Homo sapiens: one gene and its partners. The protein of the gene in region 4 purifies or fractionates together with the protein of the main gene of each other region. This does not show direct contact. Each region holds a gene or a part of one and is shown on either strand. Other genes may lie near its edges.

Region 1 (3,500 bases), on a different chromosome or scaffold from region 4:
AGAACATCTGGGTGTTGGGGGTGGCACATCTACCGTCTACTCCATTCCAGCTAGGAATGGGGGGCGAGGCTGCAGGCAGGGGCGGGGCACACAAGCTGAGGGCTGGGGTGGACAGATGACAGCCTCCAACTAGCCAAGGCTCGACAAAACTCAATGGCTTTGGTTGCTACTTTTAGAAAAACAGGTATCAATGTTTGAAATTTTGGGATAAAAACCTATGCAAGAGAAAGAAAAATGTAAACTAGTTCTTTCTATCGTCAAAGGGACTTGAAAAAAAAATAAAGTGAAAGCAAGTTTATTGAGAAAGTAAAGGAATAAAGAAAGGCTACTGCACACGCAGAGCAGCCAAAGGGACTTTTTTTTTTTTTTTTGAGACAGAGTCTCCCTCTGTCACCAGGCTGGAGTGCAGTGGCGTGATCTCAGCTCACTGCAACTTCCACCTCCTGGGTTCAAGTGATTCTCCTCCCTCAGCCTCCTGAGTAGCTGGAACTACAGGTGCCCGCCACCACGCCCTGCTAATTTTTGTACTTTTAGTAGAGATGGGGTTTCATCATGTTGGCCAGGATGGTCTCAATCTCCTGACCTCGTGATCCGCCTGCCTCAGCCTCCCAAAGTGCTGGGATTACAGGCGTGAGCCACCGCGCCCGGCAAGGACTTTTAAGTCTCCAGCAGACACTTCCCCAGGGTTGGGAGAAGTACTGTTAGTGGTTAAGAGCTTGGGCTTTGAGCTCTACCACCAATGTATGGTTCTGATCCTCAGTTACCAAATCTGTAAAATGTGTTGGTAGGATCAAATTTAAAGAATGCCCTGTAATTCCAGCACTTTGGGAGGCCAAGGTGGGTGGATCACCTGAGGTCAAGAGTTCGAGACCAGCCTGGCCAACATGGTGAAACCCCGTCTCTACTAAAAATACAAAAATTAGCAGGGTGTGGTGGCATGTGCCGGTAGTCCCAGCTACTCGGAGGGCTGAGGCAGAATTGCTTGAACCCAGGAGGCACAGGTTGCAGTGAGCTGAGATTGCACCACTGCACTCCAGCCTGGGAGAGAGAGTGAGACTTTGTCTCAAAAAATAAAAATAAAAAATTTAAAGAATGCACATAGAGCATTCAGCATCTTCAACCTGGGTAAATGTCAACTACCATGGGCTTCTAGCCTGAGGAGTGGCTTCATCTCTACCAGGTCTGGCCTCCTGTGCCTACAGCCAGTGGCAGGAAGTCCTAGGTGCAGGAGGTGGTGCTGCTAGTGGGGTGCCAGGCAGAGCAAGGCCGGGCAGGGAAGCCTGCAGGACAGATGTACCTCTTTCAGCTTCTTGGCCCAGGGCTTCTGTGCCTTCCGAAAGCCGTCCTCAGCTTCCTTGGTCTCCTTGAAGCCGCCCATCATCTGCTTGTGAAAGGCTTCCTTCTGCCAGTTCTTGATCTTCTCGAAGTCATCGTTCATCAGTGAGGCCTTCACCTCGAGGTGCAGCTCGCTCACCCTCTCTGCCTCGGACATGAAGGCCATCCAGGCCTTCTCCACGGTCCCGTACTGGGGCCCTGTGCAGGGGAGAGAAGCTGCGGGTCACTCAGCGCCGGCCATGGTGGGGTCTGCTCTGCTCACACCTCGGCTGTTCAATGTGGCCATTTAGACCACAGAGGGTTTCCTTTCAGGGTTTCAGATATTTTTCTCTCAGGGACTCTGTGCCTTTTTCAGTTCCCAAAGCTGAATTTGCTCTGCCCCTCGTGTTAGGAAAATTGGGGGATTACATGCCTTTCCTTTATTTTTATTTTTGGGATGGAGTTTCGCTCTTATTGTCCCGGCTGGAGTGCAGAGACGTGATCTTGGCTCACTGCAAACTCTGTCTCCCAGGTTCAAGAGATTCTCCTGCCTCAGCCTCCCGAGTAGCTGGGATTACAGGTGCCCGCCACCACGCCTGGCTAAATTTTTGTATTTTTAGTAGAGACGGGGTTTCACCATGTTGGCCAGGCTGGCTGATCTCGAACTCCTGACCTCAGGTGATCCATTCGCCTCGGCCTCCCAAAGTGCAGGGATTACAGGCGTGAGCCACCGCGCCCGGCCATGCCTTTCCTTTATTTAAAGCCACTGAACTCTATAAAAACTCAAATTTCCACATCTTAGAAGTCTTAATTTACTTAAAGGTGGCCAGAGAAGGGGGGACCTTCTGAAGTGAGCAGATGCTTCTCCCAGGTGTTGGGCACCCACCCACACCATGCCAACGCTTCTCCTGGCATGGCTCCTATCAGCCCTGCTTGGCCCCTGGCTAGCCCTGCACTGCCTTCCTCTGCAGGACTGTGTTCATTCACTCCCAGAAAGAGCCTGGCTCTGAGCACAAGCTTGAGAACACTGTGGAATGAGGACTGTCCCCTCAGCAGAATGGAAGCCCATCCTGCAGGAGGAAGGAGAGGAGGAAGCAGGAGCCTGCTCTGGACCAGTATGGCAGGAGGGGCTGAGTCGCCTCTCCCTACTCACTGTTCTCAGTCCCCGAGGCTCAGGAAGGAAGCCCTAATCCAGGCTGGCATTTCTATTCAGGGGGTAGGGTGGGGTGGCGTGAGGCTGGAGGGAGGGAGAGCCACAACGGAGCCGGGGCAGAAATCGAGAAGATCCATGGCTGGTCTTCAAGGTGGTCACAGGGACAGTGACCAAGTGCGCTGAGTCATGACAGAGGTGGGCTGAGGGGAGGGCAGGCTGTGAGAACCCAGAGGGGGACACGTGACTCTGGGGCTTGGAGACAACAGAGAACAGCCCCGGAAGTTGGACCTCTCTGTGCCTTCGTGTCTACAAAATGAGCACATTCCTGTCCTGTCCACAACGTTACAGCCAGACCCACAAGGTGAGGGTGGTAAGGGTGCTCTGTAAACCTCAAGCTCTGACTGACAGCTTGATCCTGGGAGAGGGGCTGCAGCAGGTGGAAACGAAATGACGACACTGCCACCGACCAAGGGAGCTGACCTATCCTAGGCCCCTCCTCTGCCACGTGCCTGCTCCACAGCCTGGGCACATACCCTGCCCTAAGGACTGTGCTAAGCCCACACAAACAACCCATGTCAGCATCACGGGAAAGGACAGGCAGCTGGACTAGACCTGGCTTGCTTGGGACCTGGCTCCCCTGATTGGCTGAGGACAGCTGGGGCTGAGGACAGCTGGTCAGCACAGGAAAGCCTGCCCCAAAACACACCTTGAGAAACCCACACTGCTCTGCTTCTGTGCCGGAAAGGCTGTAATCAGTCAAGTTCCCCTTCCCTGCTGGGAAGTGTGTTCTAAGCATGGCCCCTGTCCACACAACAGTGGCACTAATAAAGCTACAGAATCTTCTGAGCTTTTCGGTGGGGACAGAAGGGGGTGAAACCTCTGCCATACAACACCTGTAATTATTCCCTTAAAATGTAAACTCAGAAAGACTGCCAGGTGTTGCCAGCTAGTCTTATCTGACCTGCTACATGGCCAAGTTTAAAAATAAACAGCTCTCAGTGTTAGAAACTAAGGTGCCAAGCGGCAAGGCCTT
Region 2 (2,664 bases), on a different chromosome or scaffold from region 4:
ATATGTAAAACAAATCTGTAAAGATAAGCAGATACAAGACTACAAAGCCCCACAAAGAGGGCAAGCTTTGCCAAATGGGACTTTGGCCCCTTGCAAGATATGCCAGGTCCCGTAGCTATTATATTTTGGCTTATGTGTGTTGGAGTTCGCCTATTTATGGCAACCAACAGACAGTATGTCAAGTACTTTACTTAAGCACCTGCTTCTGTCTCAGGTATTGGACTCATGGGAGCTATTATTTCAAAACCTCTCACTCACAACTTACTGCTATGTGCTTAATTCCTGATGTCACTAATGGAAGCAGATACTCCATGGGACTATCTGAATGATGATGGTTTTAAATTAATCAAATTAGCTACAGTGTTTGATGAATAATTTCTATGGTAACTGCAGATGAAGCTCAAGACAGAACATGCTCTTCTATTTTTCTGTGTAATTCTTCACATTAAATAAATGCCTCCTTGATGAGTGGAGAAAAAATAATTATATTCCATTGAAGCTAAGAAATAAAGCAACCTGTTTATTTTTTAAAAAGATAAACATGGCTGATCTGCACTAATCATAACATTTTGAAGGAAATAAAACAATATTCAACATTTCTAGACTACAAATAAATAATACCCTGTTTTACTTATTCTGTTAACCAAAGATGAAGGTGGAAATGAGAAAATTGAATGCTTATGGACTTAAAGGTATCAGACATGGCATTTGATTTTTGGAAAATGAAGACATAAATGGAAAATGGCTATGGCAATGAACTTAAGAATGACATTTAAAAGTTTTTACACAAACTTTACATACTTGACAGACTAAAACATTTTTCAAGTCCTTAATTATGAGAACAGCAGCAAAATTTAAGACAATTAAAAATCGGCATTTAAGAATCTGCTGTATTATTGTGAATAAATGCAAAACAACTGTATCAGTGAAGCCTGGGAAAATCTCAATTACTATAATATTCGTGCACTGGCTTTACATTTCACTTTTGAATGCGTTCCCTCATCCTGGGTGCAAACTGGGTACCTTCAGATACAACAGCTTGGACGGGGAACAAGATTACGACACATGGCTGTAGAACCAGTCTCGCTGCGTTACAGTTACAGCATATAAACAACTCTGTCTAATAAAAACAGTAAAACCAGGCTCAAGTGCACACCCTGTGTTACAAACACATCACATATCAGGATTATAAATCATAGAAATAAAGACAAATAATGGCATGAAGGGCATGATAGTTTATTTTTAAAAATTGTACCACACTGATCATGATGACCAGCATACACATGATAATGGCTTTTCTCTTGGGTTTAACATTGCAGTAGTTTTGCATACTGCAATGTTTCAATAGGACCAAGAACGTTAGAGAATAAAGATCTTAGATGAAAATGAACACTAATAATTCTAGTGTCCTCCCCCATAGAATTAATGTAAATCCCGTATGAATCAGTGGCATTATAATGTTATGTGGTTATGAAGAATGAAATTTCTCTTAGAAGTAGGCAGCATGAATTTATACTTACATAAGTATAACTTATACTTCCTTGTACTTTCATCTTTAGTTTTTATAATTTAAGCTATGTCCACCCTGGCTAAAGTACAATCATACAATATACCTCAGATAATTTCCATGCTACCATTGCACAAGTTTAGTGATTTTACTATTAAAAAAAAAAAAATCCAACCACCATCAAAATAAAGAGGCAAATAAAAGTAATTTTTAAATCATTTGAAAAGCATGGTGCTTATTTGTCCAATACAGACTCAAACTTAAATGCTATAGTTATAATTTCCAGACTTCCGCAAAATTAACATTTATATATACATATGGGTTTTGTTTATAGAACTGTATTTTGCAATCAACAAGTTTTAGAGACAACATATTTGGTTACAGTTCCACATATCTGTAGTAAAGACAAAGCCACATAATGTTCATGATGTTAAATCTGGCTCTAAGTAACCTAAGGTACAAAATTTTGACCAAATATCAAAATGATAATCTGATCTTAAAAATACAACCCATATGAAACTACTTTTTAGAGAGAAAATGTGCTGTTCAGTAATTATTTCAATAACCTTTTCTGAGTATCTGCAAACTGATCCTTTTCTTTAATCTTTGTGACTCACCAATATTTCAAAGTGACCTCTTCACTTCCATGTTACCATTTCAGTACCCAGGGATTTCTGAGGCAGCATAAGTTTGACTTCATAAAAACAGTAGATACTCTAACAGTGACAATTTTTAAATCTGTAAACTCAATAATCACATTAGTTAGCTCAGCAACTATAAAAACATTGAGATTGGGGCACTGTAAGCCAGAATCTCTTTGTGCTTTTTAAATTAAGCTGCTTTTGAATCTTTTTGGTATTTATCAGCCATCTGTATTTCCCTTATAATAATAAAAGAATACATTTAAAATAAATTTTAAGGTTAAATGTCCTGGGGGGGGGGGGCTCATCAATACCTTTTTTTTTTTTAAAACATAGTATAAATCAATTATCTTTTTCCTTCAGTATTTGGAATAGCAAAAATTATTTCTGGTCCCTCCTTAGATCAATCCACACCACTTTTCATGACATATTAACACTGAAATTTACAGACATCCCTGAAAAGTTTTTAAGTAAACAAGTGAATCACAGTGGAGTCTCAATCAGTTAACAGTGTAG
Region 3 (3,500 bases), on a different chromosome or scaffold from region 4:
ATTTCCTATTTTCTCCACTAAATTATAGATTCAAAAAGGGCAAAGAATATGTGTGCTTTGTTCAACAGTGAATCTAGGCTAATACCTGGCACATACAAGGTGCCCAGTAAATACTTAATGAGTGAAAGAATGTTGAATAAAGCAGACCACTAGCAATGTTATGCTAATAAATATATGGAATGTGCCTTTCATATTCCTACATAAGTATATAATTACAGATTTATAATAACCATACTTTTATTGGTGAAATTAAACTAAACTGCTAAGAAATTCTCCCTTTAAAAACATCATCCATAAAGAGTTTTAAGTCCAACTTTAAATGTATTTGCCACATGGGAAACTGCCTTTATTACTTTTTCCTAAGAATGTAACTAAAGGGAAATAAGCAAACAAAAAAGTATTTTATTGGCATACTTTACCGTTTCTTTTGGACCAGGGGTGTAAGCATGAACTTTTCACAAGTGCTTCATCAACTTTTCCTCCTGACATGTTATCCATGAACTGACGCCCATGTTCTAATGCAAGGTAGCAGTCATTGCAACAGTCACGCTCTTCAACACGTACCCAATTGCTAATTACACCACTTTTAGGAAAAGGATCTTGGTCTGCTGCTCCAAAGGGTGAAAATAAATTAGTGCACTGATCTTGTAGCAATAATATCAAATCATCAGATAATTTTTCAGATTCCTTTAGTCCTCCATTAACATGTTCAGCAGAGGTAGCCCTGAGAGCTTCAAAACGTTTTTCTGCTTCTTTGCCACAGTCTGTATTGCGTCCTATGATATCTAGTTCATCTTCAAGAAATAATCCTGAATTGTTTCCAAATTTTCTGTTCATGACAGCACTGAAGCCACAGGTACACCTATATTGTGCTTCCTGCGTTGGATCTGGAATGTAAACTCCAACATCGGCACCCTTGATGTTCATGTTGCAAACACAGATGCAACAACTATCAAAGTTACAGTCTTTAAACAAATTCATAACTGATTCTGAAAGGATGAGGTTTACATAAAGACTGTGTGCTTCAGGGATGGAAGGGACAGTTGCAGGTTCAACAGAATTAAGGGGTCTGCATGTAGATGGGGTAGAAGCTGGTGAATACAAGTCTGAATTTTCATATTTGACTGAACCTTGAGCACTAGCAGGTCCACCAGCTCCACGAGGAGTCCGAGGAGTCCTTGGAGTCCTTGGAGTTGGAAACCGAGGGGTGGATGGAGAAGGAAGAATTCCTGCTCCGCTGTTACTAGGAGGTGCACTGCTAGGAGGCATCCCAAAAGAAGTATGAGTTTGAGGTGTATAAGCAGTGCCATATTCTTGATCCATATTACTTCCATCACTATCATCACCAGGGTAAAAGAAGATCAAATATATATATAAAGGAACATATTAGTAATGTGAAATACAACTAAAAACGTCCCAAATGTTTTTCAATTACATAGAAAATTATGAAAGGACAAGTATTGCAAGAATTACAAGCACAGTCAATTCTTATTTCTGGTTAACATATCTACTCTAAGTGATTGTTGTTGACTAAGGATCAATTAACAAGTTCAAAAATCATTAATAAGCACTCTATACACTAATGCATACCTAGACATCCATATTTACTATCTATAAATTTTGTTTACTAGAAATACTTATATTTCCTTGATTCTAAGATGCTACTGACTATAAAAAAAGAAAAATGATTTTAGAGATGCTCATGTGTAAAAAGGGAAAAATGGTAATTTTAAAATGCTACCACTTATAAGACATCTCAGATTCAGATTTCTTTTAGCCTTGAGTTGAAACTGACCAAGTCAGAGATGTTAAAATGTGAAAAGTGTGGAAAAGATGGCAAATGTAAAAATGGGAGCAATTTAAAATTGCAGCCCAAAAGAAAAGGTGCTTCGGAATACAAATCAAGCATAATAGTCTTAAGTTTCCTAATAGTTTATCCATACCCAATTAACCTTTTTTTTTTTTTTTTTGAGACAAAGTCTCACTCTTGCCCAGGCTGGAGTGCACTGGTGCGATCTCGGCTCCCTGCAATGCCTGACTCCCAGGTTCAAGCCATTCTTGTGCCTCAGCCTCCCAAGTAGCTGGGACTACAAGCATGCGCCACCACGCTTGGCTAATTTTTGTATTTTTAGTAGAGACGAGGTTTCGTATGTTGGCCAGGCTGATCTCAAACTCCTGACCTCAAGGGATACGCCTGCCTTGGCCTCCCAAAGTATGGGAATTACAGGCGTGATTCACTGCTCCCAGCCAATCACTATAATTGATTAACCAGAAATAATTTTTAGAATTTTCAAAAACCAATTTTATTTTTCCAGCATACCAGGTAAATCTATGAAAAAAAAATTAAAGCTGTATAAGCAGTCACATACTATTGTAACAACATAAATCATACCCCTCTTTGATGAATGGCATTGAAGGCCCTGAAGAAAGCAATTCCAATTTTCCAACAGTCCAACTCTGACGGTAAATACACTCTTCTGGCAATTTGATAGGGGGCAGATATTGGCTTGGTAGAGTTTTTAGAGGTGCAAACATGGAACATCCCACTAGAATTTGACAATTTTCAGGCTTATAGACATAAGAAAAATCCTACAATATAAAGATGGTAGGTTTTCAGTATCTTATCTTCTAGGAGGAAAAAATAAATAAACAAACAGGCTCTGGACCTTTTTTCCTTTCTTTAAACAGAATAAAATCTAAATACAATTCTATTATTTTCTTAAATGCATTCTTAATAGTGACAACAATAATTCAGTCCTCAACTTAGCTACAAAACCGCAACCACTATAAAATAATTTTTGACTATAGCAACAAATTAATTCTATAAGAAAATATAGGAAGTGAATTATTTTTCTAGAAAAAACATACTTACTTTAATTTCAGAAGGTTTGGGGCTACAGAATCCCTCATCAACCTCAATTTTGAACTGCGCTCCTATACTAGAACTATTTCCTTCTAGAACAGTTCCTCCAGGTGTTGTATCCATACTACCATATTCTTTATTATTCATATTCATTGGGGAAAATCCCATAATATGTTGTTCCAATGATGGTGGTGTAGGATACATTTTATGAAGATCTGCAGTGCCTATATTTAATAAAAACATACATTTTAACATGACTAAAAATAGGCGAATCTGTGTTTAAACCAAAAGGAGTGGGGAGCTTTGTTGAGATTAAAAGTTCGCAAATTTATCTCGAGCACAGATGAGGGAAGCTTACTTATGCAAGATAACGGGTCCAGATTTCCTGTCTTTGATTCCTTGCAGCTGGCTTTATCATCTGATCCATTTGCTGATTTTTTAGATCCAGGCTATTTAAAAAAAGCACATATTTATCTAAAATTTTACATCCAATGTGATCTCAAAATAGTAATCATTCAGATATAACTTAACAGTAAAGCCCATTCATTAAAAGTAGTATTTTGAATCTGTGATACAGCCAAATACATACTAGTGTTGAAAGATATAAAATATTTCTTAATCACTGACTCCAGATTAA
Region 4 (3,500 bases):
CAGTTTTGTGCTCAATAAACCCAGAACCAGACTTCTCCACTAGCCATGGGACTTCCTTTGAACCATAACTAATGGAGTTTTTTAAAAAGGAAAACTGCCGTGTCCTCCTTCAGATAGTCTAATGACACAATGTCTAACATCTCACCATCCTTGTCACTTTTCTCTAGATGCTCAATCCACATTTAAAACACAAAAATGAACACCATCCCCATTTTTGTTTTGACTCATTATACAAGTAAAACATACTCATTATCAAATCTTTGGAAAATACATAAAAATGTAAAAACAAATTAAATTTGCTCATAACCACACTTCACATTTTGGCGTATTTTCTTCCTATCTTTTTTTCTTATTTATTTATTTTAATTTTTTTTTTGAGACAGTCTTGCTCTGTCACCCAGGCTGGAGTGCAGTGGTGCAATCTCGGCTCACTGAAACCTCTGCCTCCCGGGTTCAGGCAATTCTCCTGTCTCAGCCTGCGGAGAAGCTGGGACTACAGGCATGTGCCACCACACCTGGCTAATTTTTCTATTTTTAGTAGATATGGGGTTTCACCATGTTGGCCAGGCTGCTCTTGAATCCTGACCTCAAGTGAGTCCTGCCCACCTTGGCCTCCCAAAGTTCTGGGATTATAGGTGTGAGCCACCGTGCCTGGCACCTTCCTGTCTTTTTTCTATGCAAATATATATATACCCACAAATATACATAGAGAGAGGGAGTATACATTTAACATACTGGAGCTTATACTAATTCTTTATCCTACTTCCTATATCACTCAAAATTATTTAGCCCAGTTCTTAGAGGGTTGCATGATGTTACATCATAACAGTATACTCTAAGTTATTGAGCCAGTCTTCCATTTATCTATTTTTGAACATTTTGATTGCTTCCAATTTTTGCTATCATAGGTAATTCTGGGAGGAATAACTTTATACATAGCCTTTTGTTCAGTGCCCCACTCAAACAGATGGCCAGCAGTGAACACATCTTCCATGGATGCAGGCCAGAGAGGTTTTAGTGGGATCACTGCTTTTGTGATCCAGACATCCTGCTGCTAGGAACACAAACCCAAAACGACCCCAAATGACTGCCCACAGCCTGGAAATACAGGGCCTTTCTAAATACAGCTCACAGCCAGGACCAGGGATGGTGGCGTGGTGGGAGTAGAGGTGGAGTTACAGGGGAAGCCATAAGAGAGCTTGTTCCACGATGATAGGCACCAGCACAGCTCCGTTCCCCCTCCCTCACCTGTGTGACATTTACACCCTCCTCTGTCTTCACGCCTGCAGCCGCTTCTGGGCACCCGAGATGTGACTGGAATTGTGTTGCTGTTTCGTCTTTCCCACCCCCACAGGCAGAGCCCGGCCCCTCCCCTCCCCTCCCGCATTCCCACGGTACCTCCAGCAGGCTTGTAGCAGGGCTCTTATCTCCTTGCAGCAATTGTTTACATGTCTATCTCTTTCATCAGACACCAAATCCCTGGATGCCAGGGACTGTCTTCTCAACAACTTTTGTCCCTCACAGTTTATGTAAGAAAGCTATTTGTTGGATGGATGAAGAAATGAATGTGGAGAAAGGGCACAGCACGAAGGAAGCATGATAACCCCCAGGGCTCTTCCCTAGGTATGGAAATGGCAATGAAGGTGAAGGCATTTAGCAGAAGAGGGCAGGGCTGCAGCTTATGTGGCCTGGTCTCTTGTGTACTTTACTTGTCAGTGAAGCCTGGGGGTCCCAAGTCCTCAGATCTAAGGCTGCTCTTGGCCATTTAGATGCTGCTGCTGATGCCACCTCCTCCATGCATTTCATTTGCAGTGCCAGCAGGGAGGGAGATTTGTGGGGTGAGACTGAGAGGCTAAGGGAGGAGAGATGGGAGGAGAGAGCAGGCCAAGGCCACACTGTAGCACAGTTCACACCAAGAACAGCCCATCCAGCCCTGCCCCACGTTGGTCTCATGCCCCCACTGGAGACTCATCCTGTGCCCCCACACACCCACACAGAAGTCTCATCCTGCCTTCCCCACACCCTCCGCCCCTGCCTGCAGGCAGCAAGATCAAAGCCACCAGGGATGCAGCCACTGTTCTTCTATGTCTTGGAACAATAGAACCCCTAAGTGTGGAAAGCAGCAGAACCAGAGAGCTACTGGGCTGGCCCACCCTGGGCCCAGTTGGAGCCTAGGTTTGGGCTCCAGTCCAGGCTCAGCATCACCTCTGTCCAGTCACAGAGAGCGTCCATACCAGTGTCCCTGCAAGCTCTCTTAGCAAGGCCTGCTCCATTTTCATTGGCATACCTTCTGCTCTGGGACTTCTCAAGTCATACTGAAGACAGAGAAGCCAACCCTAGCATGTTCAGGATCAGTTTAACCCATTTTGCATCAATGGCTGGGCAGCTCCTGTACCTGCCATATGTACCTCACTTTAGCCATGAGTTGCAAGGACAGACTAGGGGACAGAGGAGAACATGATGAAAGGAAGAGGGCAGACTTCAACTTAACCTCGGGAAGAGAAACTGAGAGTAGTGCTATTTGTGTCAGGGTACATGTGGGAGGGCAATGGATAGGGGCCTTGAGCATGGGAGAAATTGGAGGCTGGGGTTCCTTAGTGAAGGGGGCAGCATTGGAGTAATCCGATTTAATGAGTAACTTTCTTTTTAGGGCAGCTTTCCCGTGTATGCAATCTCAGCCACCATTGGAATCACTGAACCTGGAATCACTGTATCTGGAAAGGGCCGTGGGGGCCCTCTGTCCTACTCCCCACTAGAGCAGGGAAGGATGAAGCCTGTGTAGACAAGGACTGCTGCCTGACATGAGGATGGAAGCCGAGTGCTTCTGTGTTTTTTCCCTAGCTGTTTACACAAAACAAGACTTTGGAATATGTGGAGTTTGCAAACAGTAACGTGAAGCGTGGAGGAGGGAGTTGGAACTTGTGCTCTACGGAATGTGTTGTCAGTTCCAAAGAAAGCCTCTGAGGGTAAACCCTGGGCTCAGAGCAATGCCGGGCTCACACAAGATCTGTCGCTTGCTCCTGCTTGCCTGCCTGCCAGAGGGGCCCTCGCTCCTATCACTACAACCAAAATGTGCAATGCAGTAGGAGTGTCTCAGCACTGTCTGCCAGTTTTCTCTTCTTCACCATTTTCACATTAATTCCAGGGGAAGAGCATCGAAAAATTTCTGTTATTTGGGTTGGTGAGAGGCATAAAATAACACAGAGCCAGTTTTCTCAGGGCAGAAACAAACTGGAAAGTTCTGGGTTTAGCTCTGTGAATGACCATCATCTCACTGGCAAGGCATTAATTTCGGCAATAACTCATGGCTTTTCTACACAGCTAAGAGGGCCATACACCAATATATGGCACCTCATAATCTGTTTCCATCCAGAGCCGGCAATGTTAACTCATTTTCCAGCTCCCCATATTCCAGCACTGAATCTGAGCATTAGTATCTAGGAAGCATTTTGCCCCTTCTGCCGTAAATACAGCTATTGCTGCTACTTGAAAGACAATAA
Region 5 (3,500 bases), on a different chromosome or scaffold from region 4:
CTTACACTGCGGATATGTGGCACATCATCATCACAGTCAAGATTCCTCAGCCCAAAAATCTGCAGGCTTCCTCTGATTTCACAAGTTACTGCCCCTTGACACTATGTGCACACACAAAGTGAGAACCCTGGCACTGCTACTTTGGTTAAGTTTTAAGACAGCCAGTAAAACCATTCTTAATTCCATTCATTTAATCTCCTAATAAAATGTGGTATATATTTTCTTGTGGGGAGTAGGTAAGCGGAAGAATAATCAACCAACTATCTAAGTGTTTGTAGACAAATTAAGTGGCTACATCACATGCAGAGTTATACATGCCCGTGTGCATATGTGTGTATTTATTAAGCACCTAAAATGTTTCAAGCACTATTCTAGCACCAATGACCAACACACAGATAAGGTCTCTAATTCTCGCAGCTTACTTTCTGGGGCTCTGGAAGTGGCGTCAGGCAGCAGGGGGTGGGTATTGGAAACAATGAATATGTAAAAAAAAAAAAAAAAAAAAAAAAAAAAAAAAGACAAGCAAAATCTGAAAAGGCAGCATCAAGTACTATGAAGAAAATGAACCTGGTGATAGGAGAAAGTGTGTATCTAAGTATATGCCTTTTTATTATGTTTAAGCTCTAAGAAACCTAAAGTATATTTAGTAGCTTATTTTAGTTCCTTATTTTAATTTTACAGACTGGAAGCCGAGAAACAGAGGTCACCAGGGAATGGGTAGGTCAAGCCAGGACTACTGTATAAAATAGTACAGTCCTGCTCACTACACAACTCCAGTAACGCAGGGACACTGAATACAATGGGAATGAACCCCCTGGGCTGCCCAATACAGTGGAATCAGCAGTAGAAAAGTTCGATCCTTTTGGCTCTTACTCTGTGCTGGCTACTGTACACATAGTAAGTACCTCACTTAATAGAACCCAAGTCTCCTGATTCCTACTCGGGTGCTTTTCCTACTACACATCTCGCTGTAAGGGAGGGAAGGAGGGAGAGAGGGTAAAAATCACCTGCTTTTTGATTCACAGATACAATCAGGTAAGTCTTAGCTTCCAGTTGAGAATCACCAGGTAGTCCCAATATGTGCTCTGTTTCATTATCCCAGGGTCACAGGATGCACAGTTACTCCAGCTTTACGAGATACCTGGCAGCCCTGTCACCCCAAATTCTCCACTTCTGGTCAGAGGTTCAGTGACTTGTTTAAGCTCACAAGGCAGTAAGAGTTAGGCCAAAACCCTTGGTTTCTGATTCCAACTGCACATTCTTTAATCTCAGGCAGGTGATTGGTGGGTGAGCAAAGGAAAAGACAAAAAGAGTAGATACTTAAAAAAGAAAAAAAAGAAAGAAAGAAAAGGGAGAAAATATCAAGGATGGCTGTTTAGGGAGAAGCTTGAAACCCTTTCTTAAATTTGCAAATCACCATCAGGCCAACCTACCCACATAATACATAGTAATTACAGCAATTAACACTTACCAACTGCTTACTGTGTGCTAAGCACTTTATCCTCACAACAGCTTTGAGGCAGGTACTATTATTATCCCCCTTTTACAGATGAGGAAACAGGCATGGAGAAGAAAATATTCTTGAAGGGTATGTGCTCTAGCAAGCAGCCAAGCCAGGATTCAAATGCAGAAGTCTGGCTCTAGAGGCCAAGCTCATTACCTGTACATCATGTGGCCTTCCTGAAAGCCAAGTTCATAAAATCTTGGACACTGAGGTGACCATTTGGGCCACACCTGAGAGCATGTGACATCTATGAAATGGCTGTGTGGTCTCTGTCCCAGGCACAGGAATCACTTGAGACAAAGAAGCACCTCAGCAGAAGTGGGTAAAGCTACGGAGACTCAACTGCAGCCTTTCTCTCCAGGACTGGAAAACATGCCAAGGAAGCTTGGTTGGCTGCCACCCAGGCTGGTCCCTGCAGGTAAGGACCTCTTTGGCATCACAGCCAATAAAACCCATACCTCCTGTGGACACGAAGTGGGTGCCACTTAGGGATCCTGAGAGCCACCCCCAAAGCAGCATTCCCAGAAATGACCCACTCACCACTGGCAGGAATTGAAGGTGTCATGAAAGCTGTTAGCCTCAGAGGATGTGGTTCTGGGAAGAACTAAAAAGGTGGTTCAACTCCCTACTGGCTAAGGCCTGGGGCCTCCTGGATAGAGGAGTAACTGGGGGAGAAACCTGCTGTCCTGGTAGCTAGTCCTCATTTTCCACATCTCCAGGTTCTAACTAAACTAAACCCAAAGTGCGGGATCTGGCTGTGCATAAAGGTCTGGAGTTTCAACTGGCTGTGCATTTAATCAATAATCTTCTGGTAATAACTGAATCCAGGGGAATTTTAACACTTCATCAACTTATTGAGATGAGGAATTTCATCTGGCCTTGATTGTTATGGTGGCATTTTTGCTTTTCATTAAACACTTCAGAAGTCTGGTACTCGTGACATAAAGCCATGTAACTTCATGCTGCGCCTTTCCCTCCTTTTCTGAGAATCTGAGCTTCTCAAGCCTTCCCAGAAAGAGAGGCAGATTTACTCCAAAAGGATACATTGATTCTTGCATCTAGACCTCAGAAACAAGGTACTGGAAATATTTCCTAAGATCCACCAAAGCCAAACACCTGCTTCAGGTCTGATGTGGCTTTCAAATGTAAGACCCCCTACTGGTGGTGATGCAGCTGCATTTTTCAGATAAGAACGAGGCCCCAGGATCTTAAGATTCAAACGGTCCATGAGCCCAACTCTGGAGGAAAAGGGATGGTCTAGAGACCTGCACCATCATCAGACAACTGAAATGTTTTCTTAAGAGGGGAAGGAACATATCACAGGGAAAGGAATTAACATGGGTTGCACAGTTAGTAAGTACCAGTCATTACAGTAGCGCTTTTATATACTCTGGCACTCGTCCATGTAAGTGGGTATTATTACCCCCATATTTATAGATGAGAAGGCTGAGTCTTTTTGAACACAGAGCTAAGTAATAATTAGTGGAGAGAGGATCTGTGCCGGCATTTGTTTGATACCAAAGTCCCTGCTCTTCCTGCCCCACACTGTTTGGTGCTCAGCTCCTCTCTCCATCTCTATTCCAAACTACCCCCCAACCAAGTGAATGTGGCCTGCTGTGGCCTCAACTGTAATGAAGCATCTAGAGAGGAACAGTGGACCACTTGGAGAAAACTGATATTACCAGAGGCAATCAGACTACAACAGAATGCTGGAAGGGCTCCCTTTTAAAACGCATGGAAAACCCACTATTCTCCAAGTTCTCTGTAAGGTGGTGAATTCCAAACATTACGTCATTTAATCCTAAAGCCATACCTAAGTTAGGTGTTAAGATTTCTGTTTTATCGAGAAGGAAACAAGGCTCTGGGAATAATTCATTCTGGGAGCCAAAAGGAGACCCATTGTTTTCAGTAACTGGAGCCTGTAAATAGAGGGACTGGGGTTAAGGTTAGAGGCTGAGGAAAGATCAGGGTAAAGGAAAAATGACATCTAATTATG
Region 6 (3,500 bases), on a different chromosome or scaffold from region 4:
AGTGAAAACTCACTCCCTCAGGACAGTTCTCTTGGTCAGCCTCGTCCAGCGTTCACTGTGCTGTTTCCATGTCTACCACTTCTGCACCAAATGTGACTTCTTCTTTTTTTTTTGAGACGGAGTCTCGCTCTGTCGCCCAGGCTGGAGTGCAGTGGCGGGATCTCAGCTCAATGCAAGCTCCACCTTCCGGGTTCACGCCATTCTCCTGCCTCAGCCTCCCAAGTAGCTGGGACTACAGGTGCCCGCCACCATGCCCAGCTAATTTTTTGTATTTTTTTAGTAGAGACGGGGTTTCACCATGTCAGCCAGGATGGTCTCCATCTCCTCACCTCATGATCCGCCCACCTCGGCCTCCCAAAGTGCTGGGATTACAGGCGTGAGCCACCACACCTGGCTCAGATGTGACTTCTATTGCCAAATTCTTCTTCATTTCTAGGATGGGACACACTACCACAGCCCTTTTATAAAGTCCTCAACTGACCCAGCCGACTCACCTTTCTCTCCTGGAATGCTCCCTTGCCATCTCCCTTCTCTTCTGTCTTTCCCATTCCCGGCGAGCTTTATCCTGTTCTTCTCGATGCCGTTTCCGACGTTCGTGCTCTCTTTCTTTTTCTTTCACTCTAGCATGCTTCCCTAATGAGAAATAAAGTGTCATGCAAAGAAACCTCACTTCAAAAATTTCACATGAAGCCGGGCACGGAGGCTTATGCCTGTAATCCTAGCACTTTGGGAGGCTGAGGCGGGCGGATCACCTGAGGTCAGGAGTTCAAGGCCATCCTGGCCAACATGGTGAAACCCCGTCTCTACTAAAAATACAAAAATTAGCTGGGCGTGGTGGCAGGCACCTGTAATCCCAGCTACTAAGCGAGGCTGAGGCAGAAGAATTGCTTGAACCCGGGAGGCGGAGGTTGCAGTGAGCCGAGATCACGCCACTGCACTACAGCCTGGGCAAAAAAAAAAAAAAAACCCACGTGAAACTGAAATTAAGACCGGGCGCGGTGGCTCACGCCTGTAATTCCAGCACTCTGGGAGGCCGAGGTGGGCGGATCACAAGGTCAGATCGGGACCATCCTGGCTAACACGGTGAAACCCCATCTCTACTAAAAATACAAAAAATTAGCTGGGTGTGGTGGCGGGCACCTGTAGTCCCAGCTACTCGGGAGGCTGAGGCGGGAGAATAGCGTGAACCCAGGAGATGGAATTTGCAGTGAGCTGAGATTGCGCCACTGTACTCCAGCCTGGGTGACAAGCAAGACTCCGTCCCAAAAAAAAAAAAAAAAGAAATTAAATCAAGAACAGTAAATATTTAAATAAATATTTAAATAATGATGTTAACGTTAAGTAATCCTAATTTTTCTTTTTTTTCTTTTTTTTTTTTGGAGATGGAGTCTTGCTCTGTCGCCCAGGCTGGAGTGCAGTGGCGCAATCTCGGCTCACTGCAAGCTCCGCCTCCCGTGTTCACACCATTCTCCTGCCTCAGCCTCCCGAGTAGCTGGTACTACAGGCGCCTGCCACCACGCCCGGCTAATTTTTTGTCTTTTTAGTAGAGACGGGGTTCCACCATGTTAGCCAGGATGGTCTTGATGTTCTGACCTCGTGATCTGCCGGCCTCGGCCTCCCAAAGTGTGGGGATTACAGTTGTGAGCCACCGCGCCCGGCCTTTTTTTTTTTTTTTTTTTTTTTTAAAGAGACAGGGTCTCGCTATATTGGCCAGGCTGGTCTTGAACTCCCGGACTCAATTGATCCTCCAAAGTGCTGGGATTACAGGCCTGGGCCACTGCACCCAGCCGAATAATCATGATTTTATGTTAAATAAAAAACTTTGAAAATAAAAAACTATCTGCAGTAAGCGTCTAATTATGAAGAAAGAAGAAAAAAGAAAAACAATTCTGCTATCACAGAAGAGCAGAATTGTAATATTCGTCTTTTAAAACTTTTCCATACTGAATAAACTATAATTATCAGTTTTATAATACAAAAATCACTCTTCACAAAGACTACAGAACAAAGCTTTGCTATCAGTGGGCTTCTCCACTGTGCAATGAAGCCACATTAATTAATCAAGTGTATTTATAATCATGACATTTCAATCGGGCTCCAGGTCCAATTTTCCTAACACCCGTAAGAACCTCCTGATGTTGGTACGAGATCAAACTGCTCAAGCCAAACCCATTCTTTGGACTTGAGCAAATACCCATTTTGGGGTGTGTTTTTCTCCTATACTTGTTGAATTCAGGTCATTTTAAATGTAAACAAACTGCTTCCAAACAATATAATGGGGGAGAGAAAACCCCAGAGGAAAAATGGACTAGCCATTCTGAATGGTCTGTGACACACGCACGCTTTCAGCTAGAGTTTGCTCTCTCTGGTTTTCGGTCTGTGATACACGCATGCTTTCAGCTGGAGTTTGCTCTCTGTAGCCCCTCTGAACGGTCTGTGACACACGCATGCTTTCAGCTAGAGTACTCTATAGCCCCTCTGAATGGTCTGTGACACATGCACGCTTTCAGCTAGAGTACTCTCTCTATAGCCCTTCTGAATGGTCTGTGACACACGCATGCTTTCAGCTGGAGTTTGCTCTCTCTGGTTTTCGGTCTGGGACACATGCATGCTTTTAGCTAGAGTTTGCTCTGTATAGCCCTTCTGAACGGTCTGTGACACACGCATGCTTTCAGCTGGAGTTTGCTCTCTATAGCCCCTCTGAATGGTCTGTGACACACGCATGCTTTCAGATAGAGTATTCTCTCTATAGCCCTTCTGAATGGTCTGTAACACACGCACGCTTTCAGCTAGAGTTTGCTCTCTCTGGTTTTTGGTCTGTGACACACGCATGCTTTTAGCTAGAGTTTGCTCTGTATAGCCCTTCTGAATGGTCTGTGACACATGCATGCTTTCAGCTAGAGTTTGCTCTCTCTGGTTTTTAGTCTGTGACACACACATGCTTTTAGCTAGAGTTTGCTCTGTATAGCCCTTCTGAATGGTCTGTGACACACGCGTGCTTTCAGCTAGAGTTTGCTCTCTCTGGTTTTTGGTCTGTGACACACGCATGCTTTTAGTTAGTTTGCTCTCATAGCCCTTCTGAACGGTCTGTGACACATGCATGCTTTCAGCTATTCTCTCTATAGCCATTCTGAATGGTCTGTGACACACGCACGCTTTCAGCTAGAGTTTGCTCTTTCTGGTTTTCGGTCTGTGACACACGCATGCTTTCAGCTAGAGTTTGCTCTCTCTGGTTTTCGGTCTGTGACGCACGCATGCTTTTAGCTAGAGTATTCTCTCTATAGCCATTCTGAACGGTCTGTGACACACGTATGCTTTCAGCTAGAGTTTGCTTTCTCTGGTTTTTCAGTGGTGCTCTGGGGAAGGCAGAAGAGTAGGAACAGGAAAGAAACCACACTTGAACATGATGTCAAAGAAAGTAAATGCTTCTGTACCCCCTTCTGCTGAATGGCTACGATGCCTACGTTTCTCTTTTCTCTTTTCATCTTTTCTGTGATGAG
Region 7 (4,004 bases), on a different chromosome or scaffold from region 4:
CCCCACCTGGGGGTCTCCAGGAAGTCGAGGCTGGCCTCTGAGGTTCCACAGAAAAGCAAGATGGGGGAGTGAAGGGGCCGGCTGGAACTTGATGCTCCAACCTCCAGAGTTTCGAGGCACAGCAAGACAGGTTCAGTAATGTCCTTCCCTCCAGAGAGCGGGCCTTAATTTATGGACTGGTACTCTGAGTACTTCTTGTGGTGCAGCAGCAGAACCAAGCCGCCCCCTAGCAGCATGAGCCCTGGGGCACCCAGGGCCACTGCCATGATGCCCAGGACTAGTGGGGACAAGCCGTCCACTGGAGGGAAGCCCACACCCAGGAGCATCGACCTAGAGCAAGCAGAGAGAGAGAGGTAAGCGGGCTTAGGAGGAAAGGCTGGGAGGCTCAGCCTTTGTCCACTTCAACTCCCCAAGTCCCCGGCCCAAACCCTGGCTCTCACCAGCTGAGGTAGTGTTGGTCCCAATAGCCAGGGCCTGTGGAAGCCCCGAACGTCAGATTGAAGGCACAGAAGTTATTCTGGGACCCAAAGAAGGCTCGGACAATGGGTGACTGGGGAAGAGAGTATGCTAAGGCAGGATGAAGAGGGGAAGCTTGGCAGGGCAGGGCTGATTCTCGGCCCCCCGGCTTCTGGGAGTAAGCCACTGGTCGCCACTGTGCAAAGCCTGATGGGAGGGAGCCCCACAGTAGCTGGTCCAACTGGGAAGAAAGGCAAACAAGGGAGGGTAAAGAGGACCAACCTGTGCCCGACCCTCTTTTCCTTGCCACTCCCAGCCTTATTCTGTGACTAGCAGCAGGAGTCCTGAGTCCTAGGCAGGGCCTCAATCCCTCCTCTGTAAAAATGGGGAGTTCGACTGGGTGAGGACTGAGTTGTTTTCCAAACCTCCAAGTCTGGACTCAGCCCTCCTCTTGGCCCCTAGCCCCCTTGCAGATCTCCATCTGCCAGAGTGTAAGTCATATTGCACTTTCTGTCTGTCTCCACTGAGGGCAGAGACTGGGTCAGATTCATTAGCACAGTGCCTAGCTCTTAAACGACCCAAAGAAAGTGTTGCTAAATGGCAAATGGTTGAATGAGTTTTAGGTCCCAATGGTGTCCCACCTACATTCCTCACCCATCTGCCTCTCTCCAGGAAGCCTGACCTGGAAGACGGCCGGTGCATATTCATCGTCGATGGAGTGCTGCTCCTGCATTGAGGGGCAGTCAGGGCCCTGGCCCAATGTGGCTACCTCCAGCCCAAACAGGGAACGGTTTCCCCGGGGAGAGGCTCCAATCAGGGCCACCTCTAGCTGACAGGTGTCTGCTGTGTGCAGGAGGCGAGGGGGTTGGGCTGGTCGGCTGGACCTGGAAAAGGCCTGGACCTAGGAAGGAAGAAGCATGGGAGGTGTGGGAAATAGCTGGATGCCTGTGCTTAAGGGCCACCTCCATCATTAAATCCCACCCTCACAAATCAGCCTTTTTGAGCTCTTTCCGATTTCTCACGCCTTACCCTGAAGGCCAGGCTGCCATTGGCAAAAGTCCTGGTAGGGTCGTTCATGGGGTGGCCTTGAAATGTGGCACTCAGGGTGGCAGGATCCAATGAATCAGTGATGTTGTTCCAAGAGAAATCGGCCAAGGAGTATGGAGGATATGGTCTTCCCAAAGGCTTTGCTGCCGTATCGGACACGTTGGTGCTGTCAAACTCAAGCAGCTGGAGGGTGGGGGTAGGGTGGAACTGGGCTTGCCTCAGTTTTTCTCCCGAGACCACACCTCCCACTCACCCCCTACCAAGGCTTTCATATCTGAGTCTATTTCACCCACCCCCAGTCTTTAGTTCCACCCTCTAATTGGGATGAACTCTCTCCTCTGCACTCTTCTCCTTGGTTCTCTCCCAACCTCCTCACCCTGGTAAAAACAAGGGCAGAAGAAAACTGAATGCTGTCCTTAGGGAGCACCATCAGGCCCCCATCGGGCTCAGGGGATAGCAGGAGGCTCCAGTTGACGCTCAGGGTGCTGTGGGGGGTGTTGGTGGCCACCATTACCACTGCCAGAGGCCCCAGGCTGCTCCACACATAGTGCAGTGTGGAATTGGTGCCCACTGCCCGTATATGAAGCAGGTTCTGCAGGGGGCCCAGCCAGTTAGGGATGACCTCCAGAGACACCTGGAACATGGAGTAGTGGAGGGTTGAGGGAACAGGACCAAGGAGAGACACAGGCAAAAGAGAAGCTTGAGGGGAGGGGGGCTTGGAAAGTGCTGGACAAAGGATGGGATTTTGGGGACTAGACAAGAGGAATGTGTGCGGGAGCTGAGGGAACCCTGGGGTAAGGGGCAGTGGGGACAGGATGAAAAGGGGTAGGGTAGAGGGTACAGCCAGGACTCCCCTGACCCTGGTGGGCGGGTCAGGGCACAGGGCTGCGAAGAAGAAAACATTCAACACTTGCCTGGACCTGGGTCACCCAGGGCTGAGTCGGGGTCCAGACATCACCCTCACATTTGCCCTACTCCACAATCCCGTCCCATGACCCATGACCATCTCCCACACCCTCCAGGTTGAAGAACCCTCCTCTTGGCAGCCACCCTCCACCCCTAGCCCCTGGATGCCCGGTTCCAGCCACCCTGCAAGGGTAGCGTTTCCTGAAACTTCTATCGCTGTAGCCCCAGGGCCCTCACCTGGCGGGTCTTCTCCCCCAGCAGGCCAAATGGGGCTGCAAACAGAAGTAGAGTCCAAAGGAGCAGGGGGCTGGGGGCACAGTGCCCCCAACCCCAGGTGCACTCCACAGAGCCGCGCATACGGCCGCAATTCAGCCGACGGAAGAGGTGCCAGAGGGTCACATGACTCGCGTTCAGCTGATCCCTTTCAAGGGCGGAGCCGCCAAACTATTTGCTTTTTAAAAAAATTTCCTTTCGTCAGCACCATTTAATGTATTAAAGAACAGCTTTGTATTCTATCTTAAAACAGGAAACGTCAGTCTCTTACAAGTAATACAATTTAATATGGTCACAAGATTTTAAGTGAAAAAAAAAACATTCATGCTACAAGTTTTCAGTTTTCCTTGGACAATGCCAAAAACACAGTATTCAAACGGCATGTTTTAAGAGGAACGTGAAATCTCATTTTGACACAAAGACAGGTTAAAGAAAATAAACCCAACAGGGAACTACTCCAGTACATTGCCTTAAGTTCCCAACCCTGTCCCATTGTGGAACTCATACACCTTCTTTCTACTCCAGCACATGAAACTCTGTGGTTCTTCTTCCCTGTGGAACAATGTGGTTCTTCTTCCCTGCCTAACATTTCAACAAAAATTGTAAATATTTAGAGATGTGTCACTAAATGACAACAACATACTTCCAAAAAAGCCAACTTATTTGTTAAATGTTGAAAGAAAAGGCCGGGCACGGTGGCTCACACCTGTAATCCCAGCACTTTGGGAGGCTGAGGCAGGTGGATCACAAGGTCAGGAGTTCAAGACCAGCCTGGCCAAGATGGTGAAAGCCCGTCTCTACTAAAAATACAAAAAATTCACTGGGCACGGTGGCAGGGCCCTGTAATCCCGGTGGCAGGCGCCTGTAACCCCAGCTACTCGGGAGGCTGAGGCAGGAGAATCACTTGAATCCGGGTAGTAGAGGTTGCAGTGAGCCAAGATTGTGCCACTGCACTCCAGCCTGGGCGACAAGAGCGAGACTCCGTCTCAAAAAAAAAAAAAAAAAAAAAAAAAAAAAAATATATATATATATATATATATATATATAGAGAGAGAGAGAGAGAGAGAGAGAGAGAGAGAGAAAGAAGGGGCTAGGCCGGGCACAGTGGCTTACGCCTGTAATCCCAACACTCTGAGAGGCCTTGGTGAGTGGATCACTTAAGGTCAGGAGTTAGAGACCAGCCTGACCAACATGGTGAAACCCCGTCTCTACTAAAAATACAAAAATTAGCCAGGTATGGTGGCAGGCGCCTGTAATCCTAGCTATTTGGGAGGCTGAGGCAGGAGAATCGCTTGAACCTAAGAGGCAGAGGTTGCAGTGAG

What was found.
Region 1: the proteins of VDR (region 4) and PACSIN2 purify together in Homo sapiens (affinity purification with mass spectrometry; one large-scale study listed by BioGRID and IntAct). This does not show direct contact.
Region 2: the proteins of VDR (region 4) and SNX18 purify together in Homo sapiens (affinity purification with mass spectrometry; one large-scale study listed by BioGRID and IntAct). This does not show direct contact.
Region 3: the proteins of VDR (region 4) and MED13 purify together in Homo sapiens (affinity purification with mass spectrometry, with the first as the bait; 2 studies listed by BioGRID). This does not show direct contact.
Region 5: the proteins of VDR (region 4) and LEF1 purify together in Homo sapiens (co-immunoprecipitation; one study listed by IntAct). This does not show direct contact.
Region 6: the proteins of VDR (region 4) and CDK11B purify together in Homo sapiens (affinity purification with western blotting; one study listed by BioGRID). This does not show direct contact.
Region 7: the proteins of VDR (region 4) and GLMP purify together in Homo sapiens (affinity purification with mass spectrometry; one large-scale study listed by BioGRID and IntAct). This does not show direct contact.

What each region holds. Positions count from the first base shown.
Region 1 is NC_000022.11:42,889,650-42,893,149, forward strand, and holds part of PACSIN2 (protein kinase C and casein kinase substrate in neurons protein 2), read right to left. Parts: intron 1,534-3,500; coding exon 1,298-1,533; intron 1-1,297.
Region 2 is NC_000005.10:54,544,423-54,547,086, reverse strand, and holds the end of SNX18 (sorting nexin-18), read right to left. Parts: 3' UTR 501-2,664; downstream 1-500.
Region 3 is NC_000017.11:61,981,779-61,985,278, forward strand, and holds part of MED13 (mediator of RNA polymerase II transcription subunit 13), read right to left. Parts: intron 3,313-3,500; coding exon 3,222-3,312; intron 3,088-3,221; coding exon 2,873-3,087; intron 2,590-2,872; coding exon 2,393-2,589; intron 1,337-2,392; coding exon 420-1,336; intron 1-419. UniProt on the Homo sapiens protein: Component of the Mediator complex, a coactivator involved in the regulated transcription of nearly all RNA polymerase II-dependent genes.
Region 4 is NC_000012.12:47,849,495-47,852,994, forward strand, and holds part of VDR (vitamin D3 receptor), read right to left. Parts: intron 1-3,500.
Region 5 is NC_000004.12:108,092,433-108,095,932, forward strand, and holds part of LEF1 (lymphoid enhancer-binding factor 1), read right to left. Parts: intron 1-3,500. UniProt on the Homo sapiens protein: Transcription factor that binds DNA in a sequence-specific manner. Participates in the Wnt signaling pathway. Activates transcription of target genes in the presence of CTNNB1 and EP300.
Region 6 is NC_000001.11:1,649,005-1,652,504, forward strand, and holds part of CDK11B (cyclin-dependent kinase 11B), read right to left. Parts: coding exon 3,435-3,500; intron 634-3,434; coding exon 495-633; intron 1-494. UniProt on the Homo sapiens protein: Plays multiple roles in cell cycle progression, cytokinesis and apoptosis. Involved in pre-mRNA splicing in a kinase activity-dependent manner. Isoform 7 may act as a negative regulator of normal cell cycle progression.
Region 7 is NC_000001.11:156,292,880-156,296,883, forward strand, and holds the start of GLMP (glycosylated lysosomal membrane protein isoform 1 precursor), read right to left. Parts: upstream 2,801-4,004; 5' UTR 2,767-2,800; coding exon 2,647-2,766; exon of another isoform or gene 2,418-2,646; intron 2,138-2,417; coding exon 1,880-2,137; exon of another isoform or gene 1,797-1,879; intron 1,687-1,796; coding exon 1,486-1,686; intron 1,358-1,485; coding exon 1,139-1,357; intron 832-1,138; exon of another isoform or gene 739-831; intron 698-738; coding exon 441-697; intron 331-440; coding exon 165-330; coding exon of another isoform or gene 133-164; 3' UTR 1-132. UniProt on the Homo sapiens protein: Required to protect lysosomal transporter MFSD1 from lysosomal proteolysis and for MFSD1 lysosomal localization.